4 linked regions of the Homo sapiens genome follow. The protein of the gene in region 3 purifies or fractionates together with the protein of the main gene of each other region. This does not show direct contact. Each region holds a gene or a part of one and is shown on either strand. Other genes may lie near its edges.

What was found.
Region 1: the proteins of ASS1 (region 3) and PYGB fractionate together in Homo sapiens (co-fractionation; one large-scale study listed by BioGRID). This does not show direct contact.
Region 2: the proteins of ASS1 (region 3) and NIT2 fractionate together in Homo sapiens (co-fractionation; one large-scale study listed by BioGRID). This does not show direct contact.
Region 4: the proteins of ASS1 (region 3) and SIRT3 purify together in Homo sapiens (affinity purification with mass spectrometry; 2 studies listed by BioGRID and IntAct, with this or other methods). This does not show direct contact.

The regions. Positions count from the first base shown.
Region 1 is NC_000020.11:25,278,894-25,283,038, forward strand, and holds part of PYGB (glycogen phosphorylase, brain form), read left to right. Parts: intron 1-163; coding exon 164-256; intron 257-1,372; coding exon 1,373-1,519; intron 1,520-2,055; coding exon 2,056-2,219; intron 2,220-3,139; coding exon 3,140-3,254; intron 3,255-4,145. UniProt on the Homo sapiens protein: Glycogen phosphorylase that regulates glycogen mobilization. Phosphorylase is an important allosteric enzyme in carbohydrate metabolism. Enzymes from different sources differ in their regulatory mechanisms and in their natural substrates.
Region 2 is NC_000003.12:100,341,066-100,345,210, reverse strand, and holds part of NIT2 (omega-amidase NIT2), read right to left. Parts: intron 4,139-4,145; coding exon 4,050-4,138; intron 1-4,049. UniProt on the Homo sapiens protein: Has omega-amidase activity. The role of omega-amidase is to remove potentially toxic intermediates by converting 2-oxoglutaramate and 2-oxosuccinamate to biologically useful 2-oxoglutarate and oxaloacetate, respectively.
Region 3 is NC_000009.12:130,479,338-130,483,482, forward strand, and holds part of ASS1 (argininosuccinate synthase), read left to right. Parts: intron 1-378; coding exon 379-463; intron 464-1,047; coding exon 1,048-1,112; intron 1,113-4,145. UniProt on the Homo sapiens protein: One of the enzymes of the urea cycle, the metabolic pathway transforming neurotoxic amonia produced by protein catabolism into inocuous urea in the liver of ureotelic animals.
Region 4 is NC_000011.10:218,889-223,033, reverse strand, and holds part of SIRT3 (NAD-dependent protein deacetylase sirtuin-3, mitochondrial), read left to right. Parts: intron 1-3,433; exon of another isoform or gene 3,434-3,992; coding exon 3,993-4,145.

The DNA.
Region 1 (4,145 bases), on a different chromosome or scaffold from region 3:
TGTCCTCCCTGCTCCCTCCACAGAACCCCTCCCTGTTCTCCAGGCTTCTCGGGGGTGGGGTGGGCTGGGCTGGCTCCTTCACTTGGGGAGCTTCGTATGCCAACAACCGTGGGTGCCCACGTGGGATGAAATGACTGAATGGCACCCCTTGTGCGACCTTCAGGTGGCCATCCAGCTGAACGACACCCACCCCGCCCTCTCCATCCCTGAGCTCATGCGGATCCTGGTGGACGTGGAGAAGGTGGACTGGGACAAGGTGAGCATGGAGGAAAAGGGCGGCACCTCCCCAGAGCCTGGAGCCCGTGCAGACCAGGGCTACAAGGAGCTGAGCTGGGGGGCCTCTTCCCTGGCCTTGGGAGAGCTGTGTGGTCATCATGCCCAGGAGAGACGCGAGCTGTGGGAGGGGTCTGGTTCCAGGAGACGGAGGTTCCGGGGGCCAGAGTATGGGGTCAGGGCGCGGGGGAGATGATAAGGATAGGGCTGTGACACTTCTCAGGGTTTCCCGTTGGTGCATTCTCATCTTGAAATTTGGTGACAGCTCCCCAAAGCGTTAAGTGTTTAGAGGTCTGTGCTCTATTCATGCACCTGCCCTCGCGATTCAGTGTATTTTGGACTTAAATATGTTTGTGTGGTAGGATTTTCTTAATCTAACCGTTACCAAATCAACATGTGGAACCATAAAACAGGCCAATGTGGTGACTCACACCCGTAATCCTAGTGCTTCGGGAAGCCAAGGCAGGAGGGTTGCTTGAGGCCGGAAGTTAGAGACCAGCCTGGGCAATACAGCAAGACCCCACCTCTAAAAAAAAAGCCAGGTGTGGCAGCACACACCCAGAAAAATAAAACCAAAAGAAACCATAAAACGATTTTTTTTAACTCCGTTTTGTAGAAACCCAAGCCCCTCTCTGGTCTTGGGGTGTGTGCACTCCAGGTGAGGCTGTACCTGTTGTGGGTACCCCAGTTCTGGCCAGCATAGGGCAGGTCTGTGTAGTAACCAGTGTCCTCCCCACCATGTCTGGCCACTTTAGTGGAAATAAATAGAAAACTGCTCAATGGTCTGTCCGTTTACCAGTGACGGCAGAGTGTGAAGGTGACTCCAGGTAGCAGGCGATTGTGTCTTATTTGTGTGTGTGTCACGCACTGGACCATAATGTCACACTTCAGTGGGTTGCGTCAGCAGAGTGAGGGCTCTGGGCTGCGTGTCAGGCTTTCAGAGGGCTCCAGATCCACCTTGGAGAGCAGAGGGGACGGTGGCCCTTCCTGGGGTACCCAGCATCTGCCTGGGATCCTGGACGCTCACCCTGCCTAGGCAACTGGCCAGAGAGCTGCTTGTTTCTAAACAAACACATGGGAACATTCTCTAATGGCCTAGGCCTGGGAAATCACGAAGAAGACCTGTGCATACACCAACCACACTGTGCTGCCTGAGGCCTTGGAGCGCTGGCCCGTGTCCATGTTTGAGAAGCTGCTGCCGCGGCACCTGGAGATAATCTATGCCATCAACCAGCGGCACCTGGACGTGAGTGTGGGCCCAGCTGGCCGTGTAGGGTGGCGGCTACACCCATGCCAACGGCCCCCCACCTGGCCTGGGAGAGGAGGTGCTTTGCTCCTTGAACGAGGCACCCTCTGTTCAGCAGAGGATGCTTGGGGCTGGGGGCTGTCCCTTGGCAGAGCTATTGGCTGATCCCCACGCCTGGCCCACAGCCTCAGGTTCCTCTTTGTAAATTAAATTGCACGTCCTCTCCCTCAGACCCATCTTCCTCAGACAGCAGCCCTGTGGGTCCCTGGGCCGGGCTGGGCCCTTTCCTGGGCTGGGGAGTTGGGTGAGCGAGAGCCTCCTCCTCAAGCTGGGCCTGGGCTCTTGTGAGATGCCTTGGAGGTGCCTGCTGGGTCTGGGAGCACTTGAGGGAGGTCTGGCTGTCACAGCCCCAGAACTTCCCTGGAGGCAGCAGAGCTTCCCATGGGTGGTCATGGAGTGTCCCCTGGTCATGGGGAGTGCTGGGTCTCCGTGGGGCCTCCTGTGCCCACCCACCTGCCTCTGTGTTTTGGCACCAGCACGTGGCCGCGCTGTTTCCCGGCGATGTGGACCGCCTGCGCAGGATGTCTGTGATCGAGGAGGGGGACTGCAAGCGGATCAACATGGCCCACCTGTGTGTGATTGGGTCCCATGCTGTCAATGGTGTGGCGAGGATCCACTCGGAGATCGTGAAACAGTCGGTGTGAGTGGGGCGCTTGCCCGAGCGGGGCCAGCTCTGTCTGACACCCAGGCCTGCGTCTAGGACCATCCACCAAACACATGGACCCAGCTATATAGCATACAACCTGTGCCACTAGGCCCCTGCCTCCATAGGAATGACAGAGCTGCCCAGAACACCCTGTCAGGGTCACGCCTTGTTGTGCGTTCACCGACCAGCACACGGGGGCCTCTGGAGGGCTCTGGCTCTGCGGGCAACGGGGAGACGGCTTTGTCTCCTGTTGCTCTCCTGCGCCCCTGCCTTCCTGGGGGTCCAGTCGGAGGCTCTGCACCACTGGTCCACCTGCCGCTGGCAGGGCTTGGACAGGGCTTGAAGGTGGGATTCTTAGGTCAGATCTTGTTCTTGCCCCTCTTAGGTGGGGCGTGATCTAGGAATTACTCCCACTCTTTCACGTAGCATGTGCTGAGCACCTACTGTGAGTACTGAGCAGGCAGCAGCCGGCGGGAGCGGAGGCTGTGCCCGGGGCTGGGCTGCAGGCTCTGTGCGTGGCGCCCGCAGCAAGCTTCGTGTCGGGCCCCTCCCCAGTAGCTATGAGGAAACCGAGCGCAGCTTCTCAAGCCCTGAAGTCCTGCGGTCTCGGCTGTCATGACTTGGACACCTGTTTCCGCACGGACCGCTCTGGAGAATGGCCAGGCTCTAATGCCTGCAAGGTTGTGGTTGGGCAAACCGCACAGCCAGCCACAGATGCCCCGGGGTGCAGGTGCTGCCTTCGTATGGCTCCCAGAGCCTGCAGCTGCCGCGGTCACTCTGTTCTCCTTAGAAAACAGAACAGAACCACTGAGCTTGAGGGCTCCTGGGACCTCCTTAAAAGGACTTTAAGGTCTGTTGCTCACCTGGTGCAGGGCACAGCATTTGTGACAGTTCCCTGTTCTCTGTGTTTGCAGCTTTAAGGATTTTTATGAACTGGAGCCAGAGAAGTTCCAGAATAAGACCAATGGCATCACCCCCCGCCGGTGGCTGCTGCTGTGCAACCCGGGGCTGGCCGATACCATCGTGGAGGTGAGTCCCGGGCCCCACCCGTGCCTGTGGAGATGCCTGGGCTGAGAACCGCGGGCCATGTCATCAGCCCCTGCTGAGCGGTTGCTGAGTAGGCAGGAGTCTGTCCCTCACGTGTTGACCTGCAGGCTTCTGGACATGAGGGCTGAGCCCCTGAACATGGGCGCTGAGCTGGGCAGTCACCCATTGGGCCTGGCGGGTCCTGTGTGCGAGTTCAGAAGCCGAGCTTTAGGGAGGGCTGGGGTGTGGCTGAGTGCAGCCACGGGGCCACTGCAAAAGAGTCAAGAGGCAGCTGACTGCCAGCTAGGCTGGGCACCTATTTCCTGTTTGTATGTTGGCTCCTATGCAAGCTCCCTGAGGAAATGAGTGCTGAGGTGTCAGGCCCTGCGCTACAGGCAAGGACCAGCCGCTGGGAGGGTGGGACCGCCCACCTGGGGCTATGGTCAGGGAAGCCTTCCCAGGAAAGCTGAGGTCTGAAGAGGGAATGAAGAGAGAGTGAGCAGTGCTCTGGGGCAAACTGGTTCAATGCCCTGTGCTGGGGGACGGGCCCCTGGGACCTGGAAAGCAGCGTGGCTCCTGTGCAGTCTGAGATGGGCCTGGGTACAGTGAGGAGAGGTGGCCGAGTGTTTGCAGGCAGCACCTGGGTGAGGTGCTGGCTTTGAGGGGACCGCCTGCTTCAGGCAGGGAAGGTGCTGGTGGAGGGCAGCGGGAGGATGGCTTTGGGTTTTGGGTGGTGATGGGATGTTCAATGTCAGAGAACCCTGGGATCGGTGGCTGAGGGAGGGTCGTGTGTTTCCTGTGGACGTTTGAACTGGTGGGACTGGGCCATCTCGCAGAGCCCTCTCAGAAGAGGAAGGAGGGGCTGCTGGGGTAACCCTGTGGCCTGAGAGGTGG
Region 2 (4,145 bases), on a different chromosome or scaffold from region 3:
GAGGTGGGCGGATCACCTGAGGTCAGGGGTTCGAGACCAGCCTGGCCAAAGTAGTGAAACCTTGTCTCTACTAAAAATAGAAAAAAAAATTAGCCGGGGGTGGTTGTGCGTGCCTGTAGTCCCAGCTACCCAGGAGGCTGAGGCAGGAGAATTGCTCAAACCTGGGAGGTGGAGGTTGCAGTGAGCCGAGATCACGCCATTGCACTCCAGCCTGGGTGACAGAGCAAGACTCTCTCTCTCAAAAAAAAAAAGAAAAAAAAAATACTTATCAGAATCAAACTGACAAATTGACAGGAGAGGTGGAAAGTAGGTGGGCATTTAAAAATCACCTGAGGTCAGGAGTTCAAGACCAGCCTGGCCAACATGGTGAAACCCCGTCTCTACTAAAAATACAAAAATTTGCCAGACATGGTGGTGCATGCCTATAATCCCAGCCACTTGGGAAGCTGAAAGAAGAGAACAGCTTGAACCAGGGAGGTGGAGGTTGCAGTGAGCCAAGATCACACCACTGCACTCCAGCCTAAGCGACAGAGCAAGACTCCATCTCAAAAAAACAAAAACAAAAACAGAAAATGAAAGAGCATCTAAAAACACCAATGAGGAATAAATCTCACAAATGTTAAACAAAATTATACCCAAAAAACTATAAAAAGAAATTGAGAGAAAGTAAAGAAAGCGTAATAAATGTCAGGATATATACCACATTCATGGACTGGAAAACTTAATACTAAAAAGATATACTTCAAAGAGTTGGGTTAATAGTCCAATGCTGGCTGTTCTTCCAGCAGGTACACAGTAGCTCCTATCAGACCAGTTTTCTTGTGGTTAACTATGAACTCTGGACAAAATAAAAGGCACAACTACTTAAAGCACTGAAGAATGACCAAAACAAAGCAGACAAAATCTGAAGAGAAGAACACAGACATGTGGAAGCAGGGAACAGCCCTGGGTGAACTTCCTGGTGCTATTTACAGCTGCTACCCTGAAGCAAGGTCCCAGTTGCTGTGATAAGTAGTGGTGAAAATGACCCATAATCACACTGGCTTGAAGAACCAGAGCTGGAAACCAAGGGGGGAAATCCTGAAATGGAGAAAGCAAAGAGGGAGAGCCCTAAATTCTGCATATAAAATCTTTCTAAATCTCTGGCTGATCACTGAGTTAAATAGAAGTGGGGCAGAACAACCAGATAGAACAGAGCAGCTAAAGTTGCTGCCCACGTTTCAAAGAAGATAAGAGTTTGGTGTTTGGGTGCGGCCAAGTTAACCATCAGTTAAAACAAAATATTCAACACTTTTTGGAAGACTGTAATAGCATCTTGAATCTCTACAATATATAATCCACTGTACAATCTTAAATTAGTAGATACTCAAAGAAACAGAAGTGTGATCCAAACTGCAAAGAAAAGGCAATCAAATGAACACAGATCCTGCCATGACCCAGATGTTATAATTTTTTTCTTGTTGTTTGCTTGGATATGAGTTTATTTACATCAGGGGCCTTTTAAAGGCCTAATAGTCTCATTCTGTGGCACACAGATGTGATAATTATCAGACTTTAAAGCAGCTATAGAAACTAACTAAGCTCAACACTGTAAAGAAAAATATGCTTTTAATGAACAAATAGAAAATATCATAGAGTAATAAAAACTATAAAAAAGAAGCAAAGGGGTATTTCAGAACTGAAAATTTTAATATCTCAATTTTTTAAAATTTCACTGGGTTGGCTTACGGGAAATTGAAGAAGACAGAAGAAACAGTGAATAAGTCTGAAAGATCAACAGAAATTATCTAATCTGTAGAAGAGAAGGAAAAAGTATTGGAAAGACAAAAACAGAAAAACAGAGCCTGGTGACCTTGGAAAAATATTTAAAAATATAATATACATATACTGGAGCTCCATAAGAAAAAGGAACAGAAAAATATTTAACAAAATAGTGTCAAAAAACTTCCCAAACACAGTGAAAGATTTAAATTTACAGTTTCAAGAAGTACCAAGGAAGGCAAAGACAAAGGAAACCACATCTAGGCATATCAGAGTCAAAATACTAAGAACTAAAGATTATGAAAACACTTGAAAGAAGGAGAGAAAAAACAACAAATTATATCCGAGGGAACAATACAAATTACTACTCACTTCTCATCAGGGAAGAAAAAAAAAAAGGCTAGATAACAACTACTAGTGGAAAAAAAGGAAAACTATCAATCCAAAATTCTATTCCAGCAAAAATATCTTTCAAGAATGAAAACAATGTAAAGATATATTCATAAAGAAAAACTAACAGAATTCCTAGCTAACAGATCCTCAGAACAAAAATTCTAAATGAGATCCTTTGGTCTGAAGGATATACCAGATAGAAGGAGGATCTTCAGGAAGGAAAGAAAAACACCAGAAATGATAAATATTTGGGTAAACATAAAGATTTTTTTCTTCTTAATTTCCTTAAAATACATATGACTATTTAAATCAAGTATTCCTGTTTTGTGGGATTTATAACATATATACATGGAATACAAATGACAACTATAGCATAAAGAATGAGGGCAGGGGCAGTGGGGTAGAAAAATGGACCTATATCATTATAAGGTTCTTAAATTTCACATGAAATGATATAATATGAACTCTTAAGTAGCCTGTGAAAAGTTAAGGATGCATATGATAATTCCCAGGGCAACAACTGGAAAAAAAAAAAAAGCTAAGATGTATAACTAAAAAGCCAATAGATAAATTAAAACAGAACTCTAAAAAATATTCAATTAATCCAAAATAATACAGAAAAGATGAACAAAGGGAAAAAAAAGTAAAATGTCTCTATCCCTAAATTCAATCATATCAATAAGTGCATTAAATATAAATGGACTAACCACTTCAATTAAAAGACACAGATTGTCAGAATAAAGAAAAAATTAAGATACAATTATATGCTGTTGACAAAAGAGATCCACTTAAAATATAAAAACACATATAGCTTGAGAACAAAGAACTGGAAAAACCACGTACCAGCAAACATTAGGCATAAGAAGGCTGGAGTGGCTATAGTGATAGCAGAGATAAAGCAGAATTCAAGACAAGAGGTATTACAAGAAAAAAAAGAGATATTTCATAATGATAAAAGGGTCAACTCATCAAGAAGACTTAATGATACTAAATGTATATGATTTTTTTTTTTGAGATGGAGTCTTGCTCTGTCTTGCCCAGGTTGGAGTGCAGTGGCGCAATCTTGGCTCACTGCAGCGTCCACCTCCTGGGTTCAAGCAATTCTCCTGTCTCAGCTTCCTGAGTAGCTGGGACTATATAGGTGTGCACCACTACACCCAGCCAATTTTGTATTTTTAGTAGAGATGGGGTTTCACCATGTTGGCCAGGCTGGTCTTGAACTCCTGACCTCAGGTGATCCACTTACTCAGACCTCCCAAAGTGCTGGGATTACAGGCATGGGCCACTGCACCTGGTCATGTATACGCATTTAATACTAAAAAGATGGCAACTCTTCCCACAGTGTTCTCTATATATTCAATGAAATACTAATAAAAATTACTATAGGTTGGCTGGGCACGGTGGCTCATGCCTGTAATCCCAGCACTTTAGGAGGCTGAGGCGGGTGGATCATGAGGTCAGGAGATTGAGACCATCCTGGCTAACACGGTGAAACCAAGTCTCTACTAAAAATACAAAAAATTAGCTGGGCATGGTGGTGGGCACCTGTAGTCCCAGCTACTCGGGAGGCTGAGGCAGGAGAATGGTGTGAACCCAGGAGGCAGAGCTAGCAGTGAGCCAAGATTGTGCCACTATACTCCAGCCTGGGTGACAGAGCGAGATTCTGTCAAAAAAAAAATTACTATAGCTTGTTCCTTTGCAGAAATTGACAGGCTGAGTCTAAAACTTATATAAAAATGCAAATGGCCAAGAATAACCACCTGTGCCAATCAGTCAAAACCCTAATACATGTGTGATATAATGAGAGGGACTAGGGAACTTCATAGCAAATTTTTTTTCCACACATTGTTGCTGGCTTAGAGATAACAAATTCTTATGCCACACTTCCTACTTACCTTTCTATACTTTGCTAGTAAAGTTCCATCAGGCCCAAACACAGCACAGGTGTTATATAATTTCCCAGCATCCTCTTCAGGGATAGAGCCTTTCAT
Region 3 (4,145 bases):
CCTCGGCCAGGCGGCCCCCGGGTGACTGGTGGGACAGAAGGTGCTCCCGGCGTAAGACAATGGTGGAGCGTGAAATTCAATTAGTTCAGGGCCTGGTTCCAATTTCACAGCCCCTAAATGCAAAAGGGGCAAAGAGAATGGGAGGGTGGGGGAGAGCGTTTTTATTGCATTTTCTCTTTCATTCTGGGGGGCTTTCTCGCCCCTTCTCTCCCTGCAGCAGGCCTCAACCTGCACAGGGCTTTTGAAGGAGTCATTTGGAGTCCATATCTGTCACATCCATTTAAGGCGTTTCGGGAGGAGGGAGAGGGTGGGGTGGCGGGTGCAGACTCCTCCGCTGAGCCGGGCCCAGAGGCCCACTGCCCTCTCTTCCCACCCTAGGGGTCCCTGTGAAGGTGACCAACGTCAAGGATGGCACCACCCACCAGACCTCCTTGGAGCTCTTCATGTACCTGAACGAAGTCGCGTGAGTGTCTGCAGCCCTGTCCGGCCTCTTGGGAACCGCCGTCTCGGGCGAGCACGAGCCTGGACCGTTGCAGCTAATGGTTGTGGCTGAGGCTCAGGGGTGCGGAGCACAGGCCATGTCCCTTCCCCATAGCCACAGAGTTTCCCGGACCAGGGGGACCCATTTGGCAGGAGAGGCTCCGTGGTCCTTAGCCTTGGAAGATAACAACCCCAGGAGGTCTCCTGCCTCCAAGGGATCATTAGGCCGGGGCTCTCAGGCCCTTGGCTGGATGGGAGGCCAGGATAGAAGGAAAGGGAGCAGTAGTTAGCTGTGGCGCTAGGCAGGGCCCCAGGACACAGGGAACGGAAGGAACAATGTGAACTCACACCTGGGCAATCCCTGCTCTCTCTGGGCCTCAGTTTCCCCACCTGTCCAGTGGGCACCTGGACTAGGTGACCCGGCTCAGATGTCCTCTTGAGTCTTAGATCCTGAAATGCTGCCTAATGTGTGGCCTAAGCTGTGCCCACCCTGGGACAGCCCAGCTGGGTGGGTGACTCTGAGCCTTGCGGTAGCGCCCGAACCTAATGGACCAGTTCTTCCCACAGGGGCAAGCATGGCGTGGGCCGTATTGACATCGTGGAGAACCGCTTCATTGGAATGAAGTCCCGAGGTGAGTCTGCTCAGCCTCCCTCAGGGCCTGCCTCGGGACCCAGCAAACCCAGAGATCCCTGAGACCCTGTCCCCTTTGGACGCTACTACCCCCATGCTCCGTGGGCGACCTTGGGCACGTCCTTTCACCACACCCCGTGAGACCGCAGTTTCCCTCCTGCCAAGTGGGGATCGTGGGCCCTTTGCCCCTGACTTTCAGGGTGTTATGAGAAGAGCTGTCCAAGGGCTGGGAGAGGCCCAGGAGGGCCTGGGGAGTCTCCGAGGAGCAGGGAGGCCAGGGCCAGGCCTGGAGGTCAGGCTGTCTTGTGTCTGGGGTGGGCAGGCCGGGTGTGGAGGCAGACCGTGCAGGCCCGATTTCGTGGTCATTAAGGCCGCATGGAGGCCGCCGGCCAGGCAGGGCGAAAATCCTGCCAGGGGTGGGCGCTGTGGCTGCACAGGCACTGGGAGCCGGCCAGGGCCTAAGGACCTGTCCCAGCATCAGGCACGGCTCACTGGCCCTTTTCTCCAGGGATGGGGCTGTGCCACAGTTGGGGCTGTGCCGCAGTTGAGGCTGAGCTTCAGTGTGACATGCCTGCCACCTCGGCTGGCCTCTAGCCTGCCTAGCCTCGTATCCGCCTGTGGCTGGGCCCAGGAGCAGGGCAGTTGGTCCCCAAGCAGGTGCCTCTGTCTTCTCTTAGTAGCCAAAGCCCATGATTCCCTTTGTCAGCCAATCAGCATTTCATCTTGACCACAACCCTCCTCTCCAGGACTCAGTTTCCCCATTCATACACCAAGGGGATCTCAGCTCCCTGAGGGTCTGCCAGTGTGTGATAAAGCCATGCTGTGTTCTTTCTTGGGGGTCCTAAGAGGGAAAGAGCAAGGTTTCAGCAGTTGCAGCCCCTGAATTGGGCACCTGAATTTTTATACTGGTGGTGGGGTCAGGGCTTCCTGTTTCGGTAAATGTTCAGGTCTCTTTGCTTAGGGTTGATTTGAAAAGATACCACAACCAAATATCACCTGGCCACGGTATAGTCACGGCCCCATGTCTCTCAGGCTATTTTTACTAAGATTCTAAAATCCAAAGAGAGCCGATCACCCCATGTGGGCCAGAAGAAAAGGGTGGTGGTCCGGAGGGCAGGATGCCTGCTTCTGGTCTCAGGTTTGCCCTGCCTTGCCCAACAACCTTGGACTTGTCATCTATCGCTAGGCCTCAGTTTCCCCAAGTGTAATGCGGTAGGCGCTGGGAGTTGCATCACTCTGGCTCTGACCTGTCTGCGTTTCCCTGGAAAGGCATGGCAGCATGGACCGGGGCGGGGACGGGCTTGCCTCGAAAGACATGGGAGCGCGGAAGGGGAGGCAGGCTCGCCTCTTTCTTGTGGCTTTAGCTCCTTGCTTGCTGTTATTCAGGAGAAACAACCTAATTGAAGCTCTGGGGAGGCCTTGAGAACAATGTTACTAATTAGCTGCTCCTTTTTATCCGGGCTTACCTTTGTCTCTTACCTATATTAACATGTGATTAGATGCCCCTTTGTCGCAGCCTGCCCTTGGGAGCCAGCGCGGTGTGCACCCTCCAGGGAGAGCTGGGAGGGACCTTGAGGAGCCACAGACCAGCACCCCATTTACAGATGCGGAAGCCAGGGCTGGGGAGGGGTGGGATAGAGGGCTTGCTTCAAGTCCCAGGCACTTTAGTGGCAGGACCAGGACTGCCATCTGGGCCCAGAGTGGCATGGAGTGGAGGGCTAACAGCTTAGACTGGAGTTGGACAGATCTGGGTTCAAACTCATGTATGGTGGCAGGAACTGGTACACTGGAAGTGCTCCATAAATAGCCATCAGTCCCCCGGGCATGTGGAATGGGGACAGAAGCAGCCCCCATCCTCTGGGAGCTGTCAGTGTGGCGGGGGGTGGGGTGGGTTCCAGTATTGCACCTGTCTTATCATAATAAGGGCCTGCCACAGGCATGCCCTTGCCATGCCTGTGGCAGGCATCACCAGTCAATGCTGGCATTATCCTGTTGACTCCAGAGGTATCTCAGGGCTGCTTGCAGGCACTACCAAATGATCAGGATTGGCATACGTGATGAAAGTGTATTGCCTTCCCTATTGGAAAGATAAGGACTGGCCTGAAGTCACTGTGAAATGGCATCCTGTGGGGTGGGGCGAGTCAAGCAGAGTTGAGCAAAAATGAACTGAAGGAGGTGGTTAGTGATGAAAACCTGGAATGCACTATTCTGAATGTGGAATGGTAGCTGACAGCATTCCACGGAGGCTGGACCTTTTTCCCAGAATGGGGGCCTCATCCCCGTAGAAGGTCAAAGCCATGAGATCAACAGTCTGTTCCAATCCCCGTGGCTCCTTACCACCCACCTGGGGAAAGCTTCCTGGAGCCCAGCCTTCACTCTGCCCTGGTACTTTGTGTGTGCTGTTGGAGGCTCTCCCCAAAAGCACAGAATTTAGTCAGTGTCGTACAGGGAAGAAAATCGGGATTCTGACGGCAAGAACTTGCTGTGTGATCTTAGGCAAGTTTCTCCCTCTGGAACTCCAATTGTCAAGGGGCCAGATGAGGAGGTCGTATCATCTCCCTCTGAATGTCCTCACTCACCTATTTTCTTGCTTTGGGTTGGGGAGAGAAGACAAAGTTGCTAGGTAATTTTAGGGTGGTGTCTTGTTTTTATTTCTCTACTCCAAATATTTCATGTGAGAAGGAAAGAGGAGAGACGGTAAATTAGGGCACTGTGGATTCCCCCATGACAAGGTTTTTATTAAGTGTACAGTAATGAGAGAAGCTGTTAATCGTCAATTATATTGAGGGCAGAACAGAAAGATGCTATTGTCCGTATCTCGGTGTACAAGGGGAACATGTCATTTGTATTGATTTTACAAAGCTCGTAATTGAAATTCGTTAAGGGCTGATTTTTTTCTCTGGGGGGCGGGGGCGGGTAGGGAGTTGGGCAGCGCCAGTGCCCTGGGTCTGGGGTGGCCTAGTCAGCGGCGCTCAGGGTCAGGGACAGGGGGCTGGGGAAGCCGCGGCTGGAGTAGCTTTCTCCGTATTGTGGC
Region 4 (4,145 bases), on a different chromosome or scaffold from region 3:
GTGCTGGGCCCTGCTCCAGTGCTTTGGACATACACGGTCAGATGTCAGTGTAAGAAGTTATATAGTTTGTTAGGAGATGATTGATGTTATGAGAAAGATAACAAGTAGGATAGAAAGGCTAGAAGGGTTGGGAACCAGCTGCAGTGTCAAGTCAGGCAGGTGGAGTTGGATCTAAGAGTTTACCGAGGTGAGGAGGGTCTGGCAGGGGACACTGCACAGGTGACAAGCAGCAAGGAGGGTGGGGCGAAGTCAGCATTGATGGCCACGGGGCTGGAGCAGAGAAGAAGGTGGGGCACAAGTGTCATCTCATGGGAGGCTGGCGCCACCTCAGAAGGTGAATGGGTTCAGCTTGGGTTCCAGGCCAGAGTCTGAAGTTGAGAGGACTCCGTTGGGTGCTGGGCTGTGAGCCCACCATGGGGGCAAGACTGGGAGCAGCAGACCCAGCAGGGCCCTTGTAGGTAATCACCGGCTGGCACTGGCTGGGGGCCAGGTAAAGCCAGCAGAGGCTGAGGGGTGCTGGAGTCTGGGTGTGTGTGAACGCAGAGTGGGTACGCTGGCACAGTGCATGGGAGGCCGTGGATTCCCAAGGACCCCAGGGCTGTGGCTGGAGCAGCTGGAAAGACGGAGCCGCCGCTTCCTGAGATGGAGAAGCCTGGTAGGTGGGTTTGGGGGAGCTCAGGAACTCAGCCTTGTTTCCACGGATTTGAGGATGTGCTGCGGACTGGAGGTGTTGAGCAGGTGGACATGAGTCTGGAGTCCAGGAAGGCCCAGAGGCAGGAGCTGGGGTGCTGGAGTGAGCAGACAGGAGAGCCCAGGGTGTGGACAGACATGAGAATGCCATGCTAGGCCTAGGATGGAGGGACAGACACAGGAGGAGCAGTCAGAGGGGCCATGGTGGTCAGCACAGTGTGGGCTGAGACCAGCTGACCGTGCTGGCCACCAGGTGTGGACACTTGGGCCACCAGCCATCTTTATTGTTGAAGTGAAATGAAAATGGCCTTTTTCCTGATTATAAGTGTATCATGTGTGTCTTTGAAAAGATTCGTACATTATATAAAGATATAAAGCAAAGGATCAACTTTTTAATCCCACCAACTGTTAGCATTTTATTCTGTGTCCTCTCAGCTTTCTTTTTTTTGTACAAATGCATACGTACAGATGGTAATTTTAAACTAAAAGTTGGACAGCACTGTACATTCTATTCTGCAGCCTGCTGTTTTCACGTAACAATGTGAGTCCATGGAGATGTGCTGCGTTGTTAATGCCAACAGTTTCCCTTACACGGATATGAGGTCCCAACTGAGAAACCCATGTCTGTAAGGCTGGTGCCATCATGAACTGAATGAGCTGGTGTCACGCACAGACTCTATCTCATGTGCTTTGTGGACGAAATGTTAATGTGTTTGACTGTGGAGTACCACTCCAGATCCCCTTTAGGTGTGACATAACGTGGGATGTAAACCATATGATCTTTTCTAAAATCTCAAAAATTCTGAAACATATTCAGCCACAAGAGCTTTAACATAGATTTTGTGGATTTAATACAAAATTTATGTAAGCAATTTCTTACTGATGGACAATGATAATAAATAGTATATAATTTTTACATTAAAAGTAATGCTGGGCCAGGCACCGTGGCTCACACCTGTTATCCCAGCACTCTGGGAGGCCAAGGCAGGAAGATTGCCTGAAGCTAGGCATTTGAGACCAGCCTGGGCAGTATAGTCAGACCTCGTCTCTACAAAAAATAAAAAGATAGCCAGGCATGGTCTGTGTAGTTGCAGCTATTTGAGAGGCTGAGGAAGGAGGATTGCTTGAGCCCAGGAATTTGAGGTTATAGTGAACTATGATCATGCCACTGCATTCCAGCCTGGGTAACAGAATGAGATCCCGTGCTGTAGTGAATATCCCTGTGTATCATCCTTATCTACTCATGCAAGTACTCCTGAAGGGTAAATGCTGTAGTGAATATCCCTGTGTATCATCCTTATCTACCCATGCAAGTACTCTGGAAGGGTAAATGCTGATAAATACTGAGAACTTGCCTTCCGGTGAATATCCCTGTGTGTCATCCTTATCTACCCATGCAAGTACTCCTGAAGGGTAAATGCTGTAGTGAATATCCCTGTGTATCATCCTTATCTACCCATGCAAGTACTCTGGAAGGGTAAATGCTGATAAATACTGAGAACTTGCCTTCCGGTGAATATCCCTGTGTGTCATCCTTATCTACCCATGCAAGTACTCCTGAAGGGTAAATGCTGTGGTGAATATCCCTGTGTATCATCCTTATCTACCCATGCAAGAACTCCTGAAGGGTAAATGCTGATAAATATTGAGAACTTGCCTTCCAGAAAGATGTAACAATTACACTGCCACAAACTGTGTTTTTATGTAGCCATTTTATCACATCCTCACCAAAACCAAAATCACACAAATCAAATTGGTTAAAAAATGCATGTGTGTGTGTGGAGGGGGGTGCGGATTTTGCCTTTCTGTAGTAAAGAATGAAGTTCATCTTTTCATGTTTATTGCCAGTTGTGTTTCTTCTCTTTGGATTGTATATTTGTACCTCTTGACCATTTTTCATTGGGTCATTATAAATTAGCAATATAAATTAGTTTTAATTTTAGTATAAATTAAATAATATAATTACATTTTAATGTTAATATAAACTTCTTTCTTTTTTTTTTTTTTTTTTTTGAGACAGAGTCTTGCTCTGTCTCCCAGGCTGGAGGTTCAGTGGCGCGATCTCGGCTCACTGCAACCTCCACCTCCCAGGCTCAAGCCATTCTCCTGCCTCAACCTCCCGAGTAGCTCGGATTATAGGTGCGTGCCACCACGCCCAGCTAAGTTTTGTATTTTTAGTAGAGACGTGGTTTCACTATGTTGGCCAGGCTGGTCTTGAACTCCTGACCTCAGCTGATCTGCCCGCCTCGGCCTCCCAAAGTGCTGGGATTATAGGTGTGAACCACCATGCCCAGCTGTTAATATAAATTTCATTATAAATTAGCATTATAAATTAGTTCATAAATTATATGTTTATAAATGAGTTTATCAATTAGCAATATAAACTATTGTCATATGTTGTAAATATTTTTGCAGTTTATGATGATGAGAGGTTTTTAAAAATTTTAAATTTTCTACATAGTAGTTTTATGTAGATACCGAGATAATAGTATTTACATAGTCAGATCTGTCATTTTCCTTTGCCTTATCTGACTTCAGTTTTTACGCCTAGAACGTTCTTCCCTATCCTTACTTGTAAATCCTTAGTTTTCTTCAAGAACTGTTTTGTTTACATTGAAACCTTTAATCCATTTGAATTTTTTTCAGTGGGAGGTAGGAATGGAGTATTTTCCTCCCAGATAATGAGCCAGTTTTAATGCCATTTATTAATGTATCCATTTTTTTACCTTGTTCCTCTTAAAAGAAGCTTTGAGAGCTGTATGAAGAAGCCTGATGGCACCGAGCTAGGCCTCTCTAGAGGCTGGGTGGGGAAGACCATGGAGAGACGTAACAGTAACTCCTGCTCGGGGGCACCAGCTCGTCTGGGTGCCCGATGCTGGTGGTGGCTGTCAGAGCAAGCAGGGCTAGCCAGAGGAGATGGACGAGTCTGTGCTGTTGTCCCTCTGCGTCATGCTGGGAGACAGCGAGGTGGGGAGGACAGGGAGAACAGAACGTGCTCACAAAGAGGAGGCAGGAAGGTTGGATCCCTGATGAGCCTTGGAACGGAGGTGGGGAAAAGCAAGGATGTGTGGAAACAGCAAGAAGTGGGAGAGAGAGAGAGAGGCGGAGGGGAGAAAACCGTCACGGAGGCCAAGCGGCAGGAGCTCAGCTGAAGAAATGAGATTGGTGGTGGGTTTTCCCTATATCGCAGGCTCTGACTGCCAATCTGCTGCTCCTCCAAGGCCTCGGTGGCTGTGGCATGAAACATCCTGAGGAGCTTGTAAAGTGGACACTGTGCCCCTCACGTTTGGCCCATTTTTCAGGTGGAGCCTTTTGCCAGCTTGACCGAGGCCGTGCGGAGCTCAGTTCCCCGACTGCTCATCAACCGGGACTTGGTGGGGCCCTTGGCTTGGCATCCTCGCAGCAGGGACGTGGCCCAGCTGGGGGACGTGGTTCACGGCGTGGAAAGCCTAGTG